Regions from separate parts of the Homo sapiens genome. Here region 1 is linked to region 2. A link means that fine-mapping ties the variant in region 2 to the expression of a gene that starts in the linked region. Tissue or cell type: whole blood. Region 2 holds a variant in brackets; the other region holds the start of a gene. All regions are shown on one strand. Distances are between the middles of the regions.

Region 1 (8,106 bases), 75 kb after region 2:
GATTTAGCAGTGGAAATAAATCAAAACCTTGCATGCTAGCCTAAGCAACTGGCCTTCATCTGATAAGCAATGAGGAAACATGGGGTAAAGGCAGGAGGAAAAGAGATGGGTTGAAATCATGAAAGCAGTGCTTTAGAAAGGACAGTCTGAATCAGAGGTGGCTAAAATAAAGGTAGGAGTGGGTTTAGCAGGCATGAGGTCCTGATATACCTTGAAGACAAAAAAGACAATAAGCATAAATCTTGGGCAAGAGAGGTCAGACCAACCTCCCAAATCCTAATCCCTAAGACACAGAATGGCCCAGAGCAGAGGACCATGGTTTATGTAGGAAATTGTGCAATCATGAGTAAAGACTGTTCTCAACTTTGTTTTTCTACCCTGATCATGATATAACAAGTGGCAGAGAGCAATAGTTATAACATTAACTACTATTACAGCTAATAATAATAATTGCCACTACTTACAGAGTATTGACTTTGTGCTAGGTACTATGCTAAGCACTTTAGATTTTCACCTTACAATGACCCTATGGAACAGATAATATATTTTATAATACAGATGATGAAATCAAGCCTTACAGAAATTAAGTAACAAAATCAAGATTAAGTAAGAGAAATCTGATTTCCAGAGGTGGGTTTTGAAACCTGTATCTGATAAAAACCAAAGCCCACTCTTTTAACTGCATCAGTATGCTGCCTCCTAACTAGAATGGTTTATGAAAGGATTCTCTACTTAGATTATTTCTTGTTTTTTCTGCAGTCAGTAGGTCAATAGGGCCTATTTAAGTAAGGTATGTCAAAAACTATTCATGCATTTATTGCGTTCACTCACTATTTGCTGCCTACGATGTCTTGGGGGATACCATGGTAAACAGATGCAGTTCCTGCCTTCAGGAAGCCTAGAAAGGGTAGCTGAAGGAGGAGGAGAATTCATTTGGTCTCCTAAATGTCCAATACTATTCCAGTCAAGAGACTTATCTTGAAATGTATTCAATTGGCCAAGCCTGACATAATGGTGAAGTTCTGATAAGTGGACAAACAGGCCATGTACTTTCCCAGTTCCCTGTAACCCATGTTCCTTTCCCTATGTAACATATTCTGTTGTCTCCTCTGTCCTTTACCTTCTCCAGTGCCTCCACTCCCCTCTCAGGCATCTCTTTCAGCTAGCCACAGATGAACCCCATCACTGTGGGGGTTCACAAGCCACCACAGCTCTTTTACCTCCCAGAAAGTTTTCAGTATTCTCCAGGCTGACTGGAGGGTTTCAAGGGCCACTGTAAGATTGGGGGATGCTGCTTCATTTAAACCCATCTGGCTGCAGTGAAAAGAGATACATCCACGTTAGCTAAGATAGAGAAGGGTTATTATACTGGGCAGTAAGAAGATGCTCACATTTAATCCAGCTGTTAACAAGTTGGCCTCAGTGAAGCTGCACCTGGTGCGTTACTCTGGATATGAGGCAGTCCTAGATTTCAGCAGCAATATTTTATGAATCTTCACACTTATGTTTCACAATTGACAAAAAATTAGCGACATTCCCCATGTCTGCTTCTTTCTGATTCAACTGTAATTTCTTTCTGATCTGCCACCAACTGGAATTTCCCTCTGGGTTCTTTGGATTAAATTCCTGGGCGAGTGAGAAAAAAAAATAATCTCTGCTTCTGTTTGGGCAGTGCCTTATAAGTGACAGGCCACCAGGCAGTCTGTTGATGGGCTTACCTTGGTCAGATGTCCACTATGGCTCCGATCAACATAGGTTCTAAAGTGACGTCATATGATACAAGGACAGCACCCCAAATTATGTTTGGTTCAGGTGCCTCTGCTCCAGTTTTGTGTATGAAGCCCACAAAACCCCCAATCCTTAAGACAAGTGCCGTATAATTCCAACAATCACAATATTTCAAAGTACCATCAATGGATAGATGCCACTTGTAATACTGACACTATTTGGAAGATCTTATTGCTTTGAATCATTTAAAACAAAAAACAAAAAAAACTAAGCTCAAGAGAGCAGTGTAGTGTAGTGGAAAGAACATAGACTTTGGAGCCACACAGCCCTAAGGCTGAATTTCTAATTAGCCTTTCACTCTCTGTGATAGCAGACTTTACTCATCATTTTTGAGCTTGAGTTCCCTCATTTCTAAAATGCGGATAAACATTCTTATTTATAAATGTGGCGATAAGTAGAATTACATTTTTTAAGGTTTGTGATAAAAGGTGTTTGATAAATAAAAATTCCTTTTCAACTAAAACTTAATATTTACAAATATATTCAGTGTTTCAAAAGATATAGAGTACCTGTACCTACTGTGGAGCAGGCACTGTTAGGGGATGGGTATATAATAATAAGACAGTTCTTTTCAAGGACTTTACAATTTACTCTAATTATTCAAAAAATAAGTCCACTAACTAAGAGATATATCCAACTCAGTCAATCCAAATTATTTGCAAGAAATCATACTAGGCAATGGGGGATGGTGGTGGTGTGAGGGAGAATCCAAAAATGAATAAAGATAGTCATTCTATGTAAGTAGGAACCTACTCTAATTGGACATGAGATGTGCATTTTACACTGAAATTTACAGTTTCCTTGCCAATAGCTTCAATGAGGCAGAAACACAGTTTTCAACTTTTAGAAAGCAGTTTCTCAGTTATCTTAGCTGCTCAATGGTCTGGTTACATTTATCCTAAATTCAACAACCAAATAGTTGGAGACTTTATTAAATTAAAAGCTCCTAGTACAGCGTTGCAAGCAGTAGGTTTTCAAAATTTGTCAGGTTACTCATTTCTTTACCTACACCACTTTTTTTCTACTTCCTTTCCTTTATTCTATATAATGTGGAGTTCCCATACTAAGTATTTTTTTCCAAACTTTCTACTAGGAAGCCTCATTTGCTATTATTGAGGTTATCTTTTTCCCTTTAATTCCACTGATTTGTAATCTTACCTCTTATTTTATTTTTCTTGAGACAAAAAAAAAAAAAAGTGCAGGGCAGTGGCACAATCATGGCTCTCTGCAACCTCTACCTCTTAGGCTGAAACAATCCTCCCAGCAGCCTGTGTAGTAGTTGGCACCACAGGCGAGCGCCACTAGGCCCGGCTAATTTTTGTATTTTTTGTAGAGACGGGGTTTCCCCATGTTGGCCAGGCTGGTCTGGAACTCCTGACCTCAGCGATCTGCTGGCCTGGGCCAAAGCACTGGGATTACAGGCATGAGCCATGGCACCTGGCCAACTCTTATTTCTGAATTATGTTTGAATCCTTTCTTTTTCTCATTTTACATTACGTTCCTATCACTTTTTAAAATCCAAGATAAATATTTTAAAGCAAAAACAACTATTATTTTAAATATTTGTTATTTTCAGATATTAGGACTACTGTTAGAATGCTGGCTTGACCCAAAATAAGGTCTGTTCTTAAAAGGACTCTTTCAAAACAGATGACTCATCAGTTTTAAAAAGCATTCCACCATTAGCTTAAACATACAAAGTACGTCCTTCTAGGACTACCACTCAATCAGAAATTAAAGTTTGACTGCAGAGTAAAGGCATAGTTTCTCATACAAATAAATGACTGGCAAGAAAAAAACGACTTTCCTTTTTTAAGGAGGAAAGCAATTTAATGTCGTTGATTATACACGACCACTTAACTTTCTTATGTATAAGCTTTGTTAAAAAAAAAAAAAGCTAAGCATTTTTTCTCATTTCTATTCATTACTTTTCAAAATCATAAAATGTAATTTCAGAAAAGATTGAGTTTGGGACAAGGATGAAAAATACGTTAATTAGAATTACTAAATTAGTACCAGATCAGGATTTTCCCAAACTGTAGTTTTGACCTGCAGTACAAACTCTATGCTTTGAGTTTTTAAACTAACTCATTAATTTGAGCTATCTCAAATCATGCAACCGCCTCCATATCTCCCAAATTCACTCCTAGACACAACTTACACCAAAAGCCACGTATGTGCTTCTACAATTAAAACGGGCAAAACGTCCTTACTTGATACACATTTCTGCCTTAAAAAAGAAAAAAATAATTCTGTGGGGCAAGTAGTGCGGGTGTTACCCATATTTTATGCATGGGGCAACTGAAATCAAATCCCTGCCCTAGGCTATTTAACAGCGGAACCTCCAGTAAGGGTCCGGGGGTTCTGAGGTCTAGTCCAGCTGCGTTCACATTTCGAGGTCGGCTTTGTTAATCCTCGGACTTTAAATTCCTGCGGTTTTCTGTCATGGAGCTAAATCACCACTAAATTACTGTGTGCTCACAGAGTCCTGCAGACACGGGCCCCACTTTTAAACTGAAAAACAAGCGGGGGACGGGGGGGGCACGTGACGCGCGAACCCTCAAGGCGAGATAACCGAACATCCTTGGGCTGTTTGCCGAGGCAGTCTTGTAGCCCTGGAATAGGTCACCAGGCTCCAGCGACTATAAAGCGCGGCCGCCGAAACCCGGTCCGGCTCAGATGACAATTTGGCAGCCTCTGGGTGTCTGCCTCAGTTCTGCGCAGCCCATGCTGCGCTCTTGCCACTCCGCGCCCCGCGCCTCGTGAGGCAGAGCCCGCCCCGGAGCGGCGCGCGCACCCCAGGACTCGCGTCGCGTGACTCGGCCAAGGCGCGCAGGGTTTGCGCCCGCCCGCGCCACTTCCGACTCAGCCCTCGGTTCAGGTTCCGGGGCGCCGCAGAGCTCCCGGCCTCTGGACCGCGCGCGGCGCTCTGGGGAATCCGGCGCCACGCGCCGTGCGGTGGCCAGGATGGAGGAGGCCGGAGCAGCGGTGGTCACGGCCGGGGAGGCCGAACTGAACTGGTCCCGCCTCAGCGTGTCCACCGAGACGCTGGAGTCTGAGCTGGAGGCGCGGGGGGAGGAGCGGCGCGGGGCGCGGGAGGCGCTGCTGCGGCTGCTGCTGCCTCACAACCGTCTGGTGTCGCTGCCACGGGCGCTGGGCAGCGGCTTCCCGCACCTCCAGCTGCTGGACGTGAGCGGCAACGCGTTGACCGCGCTCGGGCCGGAGCTGCTCGCTCTGCGCGGCCTGCGCACGCTGCTGGCCAAGAACAACCGGCTCGGCGGGCCCAGTGCGCTGCCCAAGGGCCTGGCCCAGTCGCCGCTCTGCCGCAGCCTCCAGGTGCTCAACCTCAGCGGCAACTGTTTCCAGGAGGTGCCTGCCTCGCTCTTAGAGCTGCGCGCGCTGCAGACCCTGAGCCTGGGCGGCAACCAACTGCAGAGCATCCCGGCTGAGATCGAGAACTTGCAGAGGTGAGCGGGTGTGTGCCGGAGGGTGGGGAGGCCTCGGGCGGTGTCCGGGAACCCTGGGGCGCCGGGCCTGGGCACCTCAACGTTTGTCACGTAACTATTTCCAAGCTTTCTCTTTAACTGTGCGGTAGTGAGTTCTGCCCAACCATCTCAGCAAGTTGTTGTAAATACCTAGTATGTTCGCATGTGTGACTGTTTGGTGTGTTGTGTTTGGCCTATGCAGATTCTCGAGGCATTTTTTCTGTCTTCCTTATTGAATCTGGGGCGTGATCCAAACTGAGTGGAAACTCAAAACAGATGTAAATCAGAGGTTGTCACTTCTTTGCTCAAAAGTCTTCCGTGGATTTCCATCTCTATAGATCAAAGTACGTGCCTTTGAGCGTGGCGTACAAGGTGCTCTGATCTAACCCTTGCTTTCCACTACATTTGCAGCTTCCTCTTCTCTGTGGCAGTACCAACTACCATTTGTGGAGTTCAGTGACCTATGCATTTTCCCACGTAGAGAAAGCAGCTTGGAGTTGCTGGTAGGCACTCAGTATGTGTTGAATGGATGCAGTGCCTCTGTACACGTGCTGTTTCCCTTGCTTGGAATGTTTCCTTCACCTGGCAAACGCCTATCATCCTTCAAAAGCTATCTCAAGTTAATCATCTCTGTGATTCCTTTTTTACTACTCCCTGCACAACAATTTTTTTCGTTACTACTCCCTGCACAAAAAAGTACAGCCTATGCTGTACTTTCTCTGTGCTTCATTCATCTTGCCTTTGCATTTACCTTATTGGATATGATTCCTTGTTTACAGGAATTATCTGCTTCACCTACTAGATTATGCAGTAAATATGTTAAATTTAACTTTAGGAGGAAGCAGAGAAACAGGATAATAAAAGTGCCCGGTGGGGGAGTGGGAAATAGAGCCAAATGTATTGTACAAAACGAAAAAGAGGTATCTTCCATCTGTAAGATATTTTCACACTTTATTGTATTTTCAGAGATAACAGAACGTTAAAGGTAGAAGGGACCTCAGAGTTAAGTGGAGCAAAAGAATATTGGCCTGGGAAGGCCGGGCGCGGTGGCTCACGCCTGTAATCCCAGCACTTTGGGAGGCCAAGGCAGGTGGATCATGAGGTCAGGAGATCGAGACCATCCTGGCTAACAAGGTGAAACCCCGTCTCTACTAAAAATACAAAAAATTAGCCGGGCGCGGTGGCGGGCGCCTGTAGTCCCAGCTACTCGGGAGGCTGAGGCAGGAGAATGGCGTGAACCCGGGAAGCGGAGCTTGCAGTGAGCCGAGATTGCGCCACTGCAGTCCGCAGTCCGGCCTGGGCGACAGAGCGAGACTCTGTCTCAAAAAAAAAAAAAAAAAAAAAAAGAATATTGGCCTGGGAAAAAAGAACTCTTGGTGCTCCAGCCTTAGGCAAGTCACTTGTATCCTAACTGTAGCGTATCCTAACTGTAGCTTTCTAATCTACAAATGAAGCATTTGGGCAAGATGTCTCTTCATTTACTCTTCAATAGATATTTATTGAATACCTGCCCTGTGTCAGGCACTGTCCCAAGTATTGGGGATACAATGGTGAACATGATCCAGGAGACAGACATTAAACAACTAACTATGAACCTCATTATTTAATTACAGTGGTTATGAGTTCTATGAAGACCTACAGAATGCCTTGAGACAAAATGACAGAGGCACATGGGAAAGCCCAGAGGCAAGGAGGGTAACTACTAAAATTCTGAAAGAAGGACATTGTACTGGGAAGTGAGCAAGAGGGAAAGTGGCAAATATAAATTTGGGCAAGTCAGCCCGTGTCAGGTCTTGAAGGCTATGATAAAGTTTGGATTTTATTCTAAGTGCACATGAGAGAGTTTTAAGCATGTGTCTTGTTGCTATGCAAGAATGGAGTGAGGAGAGGGTGAAGAGATAGAGATTTTGAGGGCTGGTTTGAAGGAGGTCATTGTAATAGGATGAGAGATGATGGTAGCCTATACCAGCTTGATACTAGGAGAAATGCTAAGAAATGGAAGATTTCGAGAAAAGATTTAGAGGTAAAATTGACAGCCCTTGGTTCCTTCTAATTTTAATGTTGCATAATTCCAGCCTTGGAATTTTCTTAATATACTAACAGGAACCCAGGGAAAGTATTATTTCCATCACATGGGGAGAAAAGTAGGCAAAAATCCCATTTATTTAATACTTACAATGCAGTAGATCCTGTCATAGGTGCTAACTATGCTTTTTAATACTCACAATGATGCCATAAGATGATGTGCTCCCATTTTTCAGAGGCAGAAACTGAAGCTCAGAGAAATTAAGTCATAAGATTACAAGGCTAGTAAGCATTGGAACTGTATTTGACCTCTGTGGTCTGTGACTCCAAACCCTTGAGTTCTGCACAGTGGCAGAGTACTAGAACCTGAATCTTTGTTGGGGGGTTGGAGGGTCATGGTTTTTTGCTTGTTTTTGTTTTTTGTTTTTTGTTTTCTGTTTTTTTGAGATGGAGTTTCACTCTGTTGCCCAGGCTGGAGTGCAGTGGCATGATCTGGGCTCACTGCAATCTCCGCCTCCTGGGTTCAAGTGATGCTCTTGCCTCAGCCTCCCAAGTATCTGCGACCACAGGAGCGTGCCATCACGCCAGCTAATTTTTGTACTTTTAGTAGAGACAAAGTTTCACCATGTTGGCCAGGCCAGGCTGGTCTCAAACTTCTGACCTCAAGTGATCCACCCACCTCTGCCTCCCAAAGTGTTGGGATTACAGGCGTGAGGCACTGCACCCAGCCTAGAACTTGACTTCTGTACTGTTGGATTTGTGATCAGGAGGATTTGTCAAAGTCATTCACATAGTTGACTGATCTTCT
Region 2 (8,106 bases):
AGGCCACACTCATGGGTGCTCCAGAGTGATGCATAAATTAAACTTGCAGCCTCCCTCACTGATCCTCACTCAGCTCCAGAAAGCCCCAGAGACCAGAGATTACTCTTCAGCACAAACTCTCCTCTGAGAGTTCCTCATTCCTTCCTTTGGATGCCCTCTGAAGGGAGCCCTTGATGTGCATTTGAAATTGCTCCAGGGGTGGGAATGGGGATTAGGAGGAATTTGAGGGAGAGGGCCTTCTAGAGCCTGGGCGTGGGCAAGCTGGAGGAGCCAGCCATGAAGCCCAAGCATGATGAACACCACTGGCATTTCCTTGGAAGACTGTATTCCTCGGACTCCAGGTTTTCCCCACTTTCTTCCTGGCCAGCAGTTGCTGTGGCAACACAATGTCTGAGAACTTCTAATTACATCTGTCTGCTTCTCCTAGAACCCTACTGAGCCACACATATGGAGACTTCATTTAGCTTTGAGTTTCTTGCTGGGTTTTAACCCTGTCTGCATCCTTAGGCTAGAGAATAATTGCCAGGATGCTGGAACCTTAACTGCTTTGCAGCCACACTACCCCCAGAGATTCCCAGGACTTTGTCCCTGTTTTTTGTTGTTGTTGTTGTTGTTGTTGCTGTTTGTTTTTTGTCTGAGACAGAGTCTCACTCCGTTACCCAGGCTGGAGGACAGTGGTGCAATCTAGGCTCATTGCAACCTCTGCCTTCCAGGTTCAAGCGATTCTCGTGCCTCAGCCTCCAGAGTAGCTGGATTTACAGGTGCAAGTCACCACACCCAGCTAATTTTTGTATTTTTAATGGAGAGGGGGGTTTCACCATGTTGGCCAGGCTGGTCTCAAACTTCTGTCCTCAAGTGATCCACCTGCCTAGGCCTCCCAGAGGGCTGGGATTACAGGTATGAGCCACTGTGCCCGGCCTGTCCTTGTTTTTAAAGTGGAGACTGGTGCTACTTTGCTATGCTGGGTCTCCCAGATCCATTTTGTTTCAGTCAACCCTGACATCCCTACTATCCCCCCAGCCTCCACCATTGTATCAGATGGTCTCACCTCTTGGTTGGGCATCACAGTTCTTACTAATGTGCCCAATCCAAGGGGAGATAAACCACGTGGGCACACCTAAGGCTTTGCTGTCCCGGCAACTCGTGTTTCAGTGTATTCCAGCCCACTGCAAGGTCAGCCTAGTGGATGAGACAGAGGGGAGTAGTTAGAGATCCCCAGAATATTTTGGGAGTGGAGGAGGGGTAGAGCAAGGCAAGAAGCTTTTTTCCTGGTCTAGAAATGTTGGCCAGCCTGTCTCCCTCTACCTCAGAAGACAGTGTAAGGGCGGGGTTCCTCAGAAGAGTTCACGCAAAGCACTGGCCTCAGATAATAAGCCCATTTCCACAGTTTCTCCTGCCTTCTCACTTGCTTCTCTTCATCTCTACTTCCCCCTAGTATAGGCCCCCAAGGTATCAGGCAGCTCTTTGGCTGCCCCTACCCTATACTCAGAAATCTCACCCAATTTTGCTTTGCTCTGAGATACCCCACATTCCCACATTACCTTATCTTCCTCTTCACCAAATTCTCATTCTCTCAGCATGTCTCAGTTAGGTTAAATATTTAAACTGTGGACAAAGGAAATGACTGAAAGCCATTTTCGTCCTCCGTTGCTCTTCTACCTCATTAACACACATATGCATGCACACACATGCACAAACACACTCTTCAATGTCTTTCTGTGGGCCTAAGACAATCTCTAATTAGTGAAATTCCAGGCTGAATATATATGGCCTGGTGGTGGAGGGCAGGGTCTTTAGGGTATTTCCTCAAAGAAGACCAGTTCTGGGAGGGAGCAGCCCCAGGAAAGGAGTTGGCACAGGTGTTGTTCCTCTCTGTCCCTATCCCAAGTCCCCAGGGCAGTGTGGTTCAATCCACCTTTTTTTGCTTTCAACAAAGGTTAATGGAGTGGCACAAGGTATACTAGGTCCTACAAAAGGATGGACAAACAGAATCTTTGTCCTCTAGGAGCTTGTAGTTCAGCCAGAAAGACAAAATCCACACAGTCAGTTCTGTTTTTAAAAAAATAAATGATCAAAATGAGTTCATACAAAGAGGAATCAAAGTTCAGAGAAGGAAGGGGGAATTCATACCAGTAGAAAGTAAAAGGTCACTGAGGATGGAGTGGTGTAACTTGACCCAAGCCTTGAAGGACAGGGAGAATTTGGGCAAGCCAGACAACAAATCAGACTTCCCAGATGGTGACATTATTTTTTTAGGTGGTCTTGTGGGACATTCTCTGCCTATCTGAAGGTTAAAGAAGCATCTGACAATTCCTCATCATGCTGACATTTTCAAAGGCTAATGAGTTCTCATTTCAAAACATAGAGCCTTGGGAGCCCTAGACCCTTTTTTTAAATTTTAGTCCACTTACAGCTTAAATCTGCTGTGGCTACCTGCTCTGCTTACAGACACTTCCCAAAGCTTTCAGTATCCAGGGTCCCTAAGAAGTGGAGGGTTGCTCGAAGTGAGGAGCCCACAGATCTCGAGGCTACATGAACAATGAAGTCACCCAGGAGAGAGGAAAAACGCCCTGTGCCATATGCCAAAGACTTTGTTAACAGTGCCCAGGTAGAAGGCAGTAGGTGACAGTGTCGGGCATCCAACTCAGTGCCAGGGCATGTGGACCACCGTCGAGAATAGTGGCTTGGCTTGCAGGTTTAGGGGGAATCATGTGCAAATTGGGGTAATGGAAAGCAGCCACAGAAGTGATGGGGGTACTGTTCCAGCTCAGGGAAGCAAGCAAGCTCTCTGCCACAGTGGATTCTATTCCCAGCAGGTCTGTGGTATCAGGAACCACCCAGGGACTACTTAAATTCAGTGGCACCCAAGGCAAAAATGGGTGGAGTGGAGAACTAGATACCTCTTAGGCGATATCCATCTCATCTGCCTTCCACCATATCAGGGGAATAAATCCTACATTCCACTTGGAACTCCAAAGAATGCAAATCCTAATGGGTTCAGGGCTTGGGAAGCTGGGGGTGGGTGGAGGGTGGGCTTGCATGGGATGGAGGGATGGGAATGTGTAGGGATGTTGGCCCAGATGTGGCAGGCACTGCAGGGGATGCTTCTAAAACTGCCTGTCTTGAGAATTTTCCCACAGCTGCCCTAGAGCTTTCTCCCTTCTTTGATTTGAAGGTACTGGGATTTAGGTGTGTGGGAATTTTTTTTTTAAACTTTTGATCAACCATTTTCCTTGAACTACATGTGGAAATAATTAGAGCATGAATGCTGAGTAAATGTGAGCCCTGGCAGCCCCAGACATACTTCAGTGACAGGTTCTTGGCAGGAATGAAGAATTGTGAATCGCATGTGAATTTCCTTTAGCCTTTCTCTCCTTTCTTTTCTTCCCTTTTCTCCTTGCAAGGCAAATGCAAGTAGAATAAAAAATTTATTAATAGTATTCTAGGGGAGTAGAGGGTTCCACCCAGTTCACTAGAAACAAAATCAGGACACTCAATTGGGGTTCCATTACTGCTTCCCTGATTCCCTCTGCCATGATCTGGGAGGGAATGAAAAGGCATTGCTTATGAGAATCCTTTGACTATGAGAGCCAACTTTAATCCCCCCTTCAGAACCTAGCAACACCCTCATGTGACTGTATACATAACCACTTTCTTTAGTTTGGCCATTTAGGTTAGCTTCCTTGGGAGAGTGAAGTTTGATATTCAGGAACATCTGAAGTGGTAAATTCCTGAGCTTTCTAATTAATAGAATTCTTACAGCTTAAGGGACTTAGGCATCATCTATAACCTCTGCATTTTATAGCTGAGGAAACTGAGGCCCAGAGAGGTCAAGCACCTTGCCCCATGTCACACCATATGTTAGAGGCAGAGATATATCCAGGGCCCATTTCAGTCCTCCTGCATTAATTCTTCTTACACAGGACATCACTGCCTCTGCCTGGCTTACACTCCAGGTTACTAGTTCAGGTTTCAGCAGAAGTTTAAAAGCTTTTTTTTTTTTTTGGCTGTTTTATCCCGACATTTGCCAAATGATTTCTCTTACATGGCATTCATCATCCATTTCTGGGAGCTCTCTAGGCTTCCTGGTTTTCCTCCCAATTCTCTGAATGTTCCTACTCTACTCTCGGCTGCTTTGCTGTCAGAGTTCTCATACCATTGTGCAGGCTGTTGACTGCATGAGGAGGTGACAGGGGCTGAAATCCAAACTACACTCTGCTAGCCAAGCCCCATACCCTGGCCATGTGCTGCATCTCCTGGAGAGAAAGGTGCCTTTTCTGATTTGCACAGAGACCCCTTGTGGGCTGCTCTTCCTGCTGTCTGTGCTCCCCCTTTTCCTTCCACGCCCTAGCCGCCCTCGGCCTTCCATGCCCACCTTTTTCTCCTGAGCTCATTTGTTCCTCTGCCTCAATTTCTCACCCCTACACAGGTGACGCCCAGATATGCATCTTTAGCCAATATTGGCAGCTGTCGGTGGGATGTTTCACTGTCCTTGAGACGCGTCCATAACTGACTCATCATTGCCCACCCCACCCTCACGGGACACCTTTCCCAGACTTCATTTCTGATAGAGACACACAACCAACCCTCCAGGCCCTAGAAGCCAAAGATCTGGCAGCCCCCCAGACTCTCTCCTTCCTCTCTCTATTCAGGATGTTGCCAGACCTCGTTATTCTGTAGAGATCTCTCTTGGATCCCTTCCTTCTATAACCATGCCACCACTAGTGTAGATGCAACTGTCATCACCCCAGGCCTGTTCCAACTGATATCCTTCTGCCTGCCCCCAATTCCGCCTTACCCATTTCTTGCCATGTGCCACTGTTCAAA[T/C]GTTTTTCTTAACACTCTCCTGCTCAAAAACCTATAGATTTTCCATCCACATCCTACCTTTCTTAAGAGCTCGGCTCAAGTCCCATCTCTTCTATGAAGTCCCATCTCCTGGAGTCGGCCCCATTACTTAGGACTGCATTGGCCTGTATTCTTGTTTCATCAGCTCAACTAGGTTAGACACTCCTGTGGTGGGGGCAGCCACATCCTCTGCTCCTTTTTGGGTTTTTTGTTGTTATTTTTAGAGACAGGGTCTCACTCTGTCACCCAGGCTGGAGTGCAGTGGCATGATCCTAGCTCACTGCAGCCTCAAACTCCTGGGCTCAAGCAATCTTCCCACCTCAGCCTCCCAAAGTGCTGGAATGACAGGCTTGAGCCACTGCACCCAGGCCTCCCTTTTGGGTTTATGCCACGGAGCTTGCGCCATGCTCATTACAGACCGTTCTCTTTTTTTGTTTTGCTGTTACAGGCATTCATCAAATAGCATTTTGATGGGTTTAAATCATTTTCCTTGGCCATTACTGAAGAAGACTGGAGGATTTATACTCTCTACATTGGCCTTCAAAGTGGACAAGTCTTAGGTAGACAATTGGAGAGGAGAAAATAAGAACCATATTCAAACCTAACAAGCTAATTCAGGGCAGATAAATGGTCTGTATTAGAAACTTCCACTTGGACTTTCCTAAGAAACCGAAGGGTGAAATTATGAAACTAGTGGCAGCCTTACAAAAACATTTTTTAGGAAGAGTGACAAGATATCTTGGGAACTCCTAAGAATCACTCTGAGGAGTGTTGCTTTCATAATGGGGAGCCCGAAAGACCCTGTCAGTAGCAGTGGAGTCACTGGGTGTTCCTGTGTTGAGAAGGCGGTGTGGTATGTCACAGGGGAGACTCTCCAACTCGTCACTGTGGACCATGAGAACAGAAGCACCTCTCTCAAGTACCGGAGTTGGAGCCACCTGGGTCTGACTCTTACCTCAGTCATGGCCCAGCTCTTGAAGTCACAGTCTCCTCAGTGCAAACAGGGATGAATCCCTGAGCCTCACAGATCTTTGTGAGATGATTTTCAGCCCTATATGAACAGGCCTAACATGTTTCTAACTCTGTAAGTGCTTACTATACTGCTATACTTCTGCTATGACTAGACAAGACCATTGCAGAACACAGGAACCGATCATTCTATAGAAACCAAGCATCTAGTGTGCTATGCTGTGTCTGGGCCACCTCAAGAAAGCTCTAAGCATAGGCAGCATGAGGCATTCCAGAGATGACATGTGAGCAGCAGTGAAGGAGAGAGGCTTCCGTGTGAAGGTGGCCTGAGCCAACCTAGATTCTTCAGTCTGAAAAGACACATAGAGAATGTGACAGAATCTGTAAAATAATAAAGAAAATGGTGGAGGTAAACATCACTGTCCCATTTGAAATTTGAATATAGTAATTTCCAGGCACACAATACGCAATGAGTAGTAAAAGGAACATGTTATATCCCATAAGCTGTGATAGAGGCTAAACATAGAAATTAATCAAAGGGTAATTAAATAATTCTTGATTGACCGGGCACAGTGGCTTAGGCTTGTAATCCCAGCACTTCGGAAGGCCGAGGCAGGTGGATCACTTGCAATCAGGAATTCGAGACCAGCCTGGCCAACATGGTGAAACCCCATCTCTACTAAAAATACAAAAATTGGCCAGGCATGGGGGCGTGTGCCTGTAATCTCAGCTACTGGGAAGGCTGAGGCAGGAGAATCGCTTGAACCCGGGAGGTGGAAGTTACAGTGAGCTGAGATTGTGCCACTGCACTCCAGCCTTGGCACCAGAGCGAGACTCCATCTCAAAAAAAAAAAAAATTATTGATTGACAGCTTCATAATAGATTTTTTTAAATCTTAAAGCTAATCTTCGTCAGGCGATATATCTCTTATCTGGATGTCATGGAGCCTGGCCATACTGACCCAAAAACATCCGAAGTGCCACTGTTGGCTGCTGCACTAACCTGAAGAGACTGTAAATGACATTTTAAAATAATTTTTGTTTATTTTTAAGCAGCTTTATTGAGATATCACTGACATATAAAAATTGCATATATTTAAGGTGTACAAATGTTTTAATGTTTTAATATTCATATATATGGTGAAATGTTCACCATAATCAAGCTAATTAACATATTCACTACCTCTACATAGTTACCATTTTGTGTGTGTGCATGTTGAGAAAATTTAATTTATGATCTATCCTCTTAGCAAATTAAAAGTATACAAACAGTATTATTAACTATCATCGCCATGCTGTACATTAGATCTCCAAAAATTACTCATCTTGCATAACCGAAACTTTGTACCCCCAAATGACATTTAATATACAAACCATTTGTTGAGCATTTTCTCAGGCAGTACACTGTGGTGGGTCTGGGGGAAGCTGAAGTGTGCAAGGCTCTTAGAGTCTACTTGAGATAAGCCATATGTGCATCAGATATTGAATAGGACTCTCTCTAATAGACTAAGGACCCAAAAGCCATTATTGGAAAGATTTTGTTTATGAAGAAAATAATAGGGCAAATGGGGAGTTGGATTACCATGAAGCTAATTAAGCTTTGATTTCAGACCTTTTATTTGCAAGGGTCTTGCAAGGCCATTTACCCAATTTGCATTTATAATTGTATATTTTTTTAGCCCTCCCTAAACCATTTAAGCTTGAGGCCCCACAAAACCAGGGTTTGGCCCTAGTGCATTAACCTTGAGATGAGGGACTGATTGTGAGCACATATAAGGAAGGGAAACTTATAGCAGGGACTGCACACATGCAGTGCCCCCTGCCACACACATCAGAACCACTGCTAGAAATCACCAGTCCCTCCTCCTCTGTCCATAGCATATGCAGGATGTACCAACACATTTCTTTCCAGAAAAAAAGAGAGACTTGAACAAGGTCATGAGATACTCCAGCAAGGTTTCAAGGTCCTGAAGCGGTTTTGCTCTTTCTCTCTGCTTTTCTCAGGCCTGTGCTACTGGGTTCCAGAAGAGCTGCCTGGGAGCAACCAGCATCTCACCCCATACGCCCCACTGCAGACCTCCCCCTGCTCTCCCCAGTTCTGTGAATTCCTTTGTCCCCAGCTCCATGGTATTCTGTGTATATCTGAGGGGCCCTGGTGTTCCTGTGAAGTTTCCATGACTAATTCTGGCAAAGCAAAGAGAGCCTTTCTCACGTCAACAAAGCCACTCTGTCGCAGAATAGTGGCAAGTAGAGCCAAAATTCCACCTTGGCATAAGTAGAGCTGTTCTTTTTT

Evidence for each region. PIP is the estimated chance that this variant, and not a neighbour inherited with it, causes the effect.
Region 1: it holds the start of LRRC58, and the variant in region 2 is fine-mapped to the expression of LRRC58 in whole blood (INTERVAL, PIP 0.98).

The regions. Positions count from the first base shown.
Region 1 is chr3:120,345,893-120,353,998 of GRCh38, reverse strand. LRRC58 (leucine rich repeat containing 58) reads left to right here and starts at 4,645. Exons shown (of 4, transcript NM_001099678.2): 1 at 4,645-5,255. The coding sequence starts at 4,756. It also overlaps the pseudogene BTNL12P. RefSeq lists a silencer at 4,650-4,979 and an enhancer at 5,330-5,379.
Region 2 is chr3:120,421,264-120,429,369 of GRCh38, reverse strand. The region is part of intron 2 of FSTL1 (follistatin like 1); the gene reads left to right. LOC124900546 (a long non-coding RNA gene) reads left to right here. Exons shown (of 2, transcript XR_007096030.1): 2 at 5,294-8,106. It also overlaps the pseudogene BTNL12P. Among named protein-coding and RNA genes, the nearest start is that of FSTL1, 26 kb to the left of the region's middle. The variant T/C (reference allele first, on the strand shown) is at 4,828.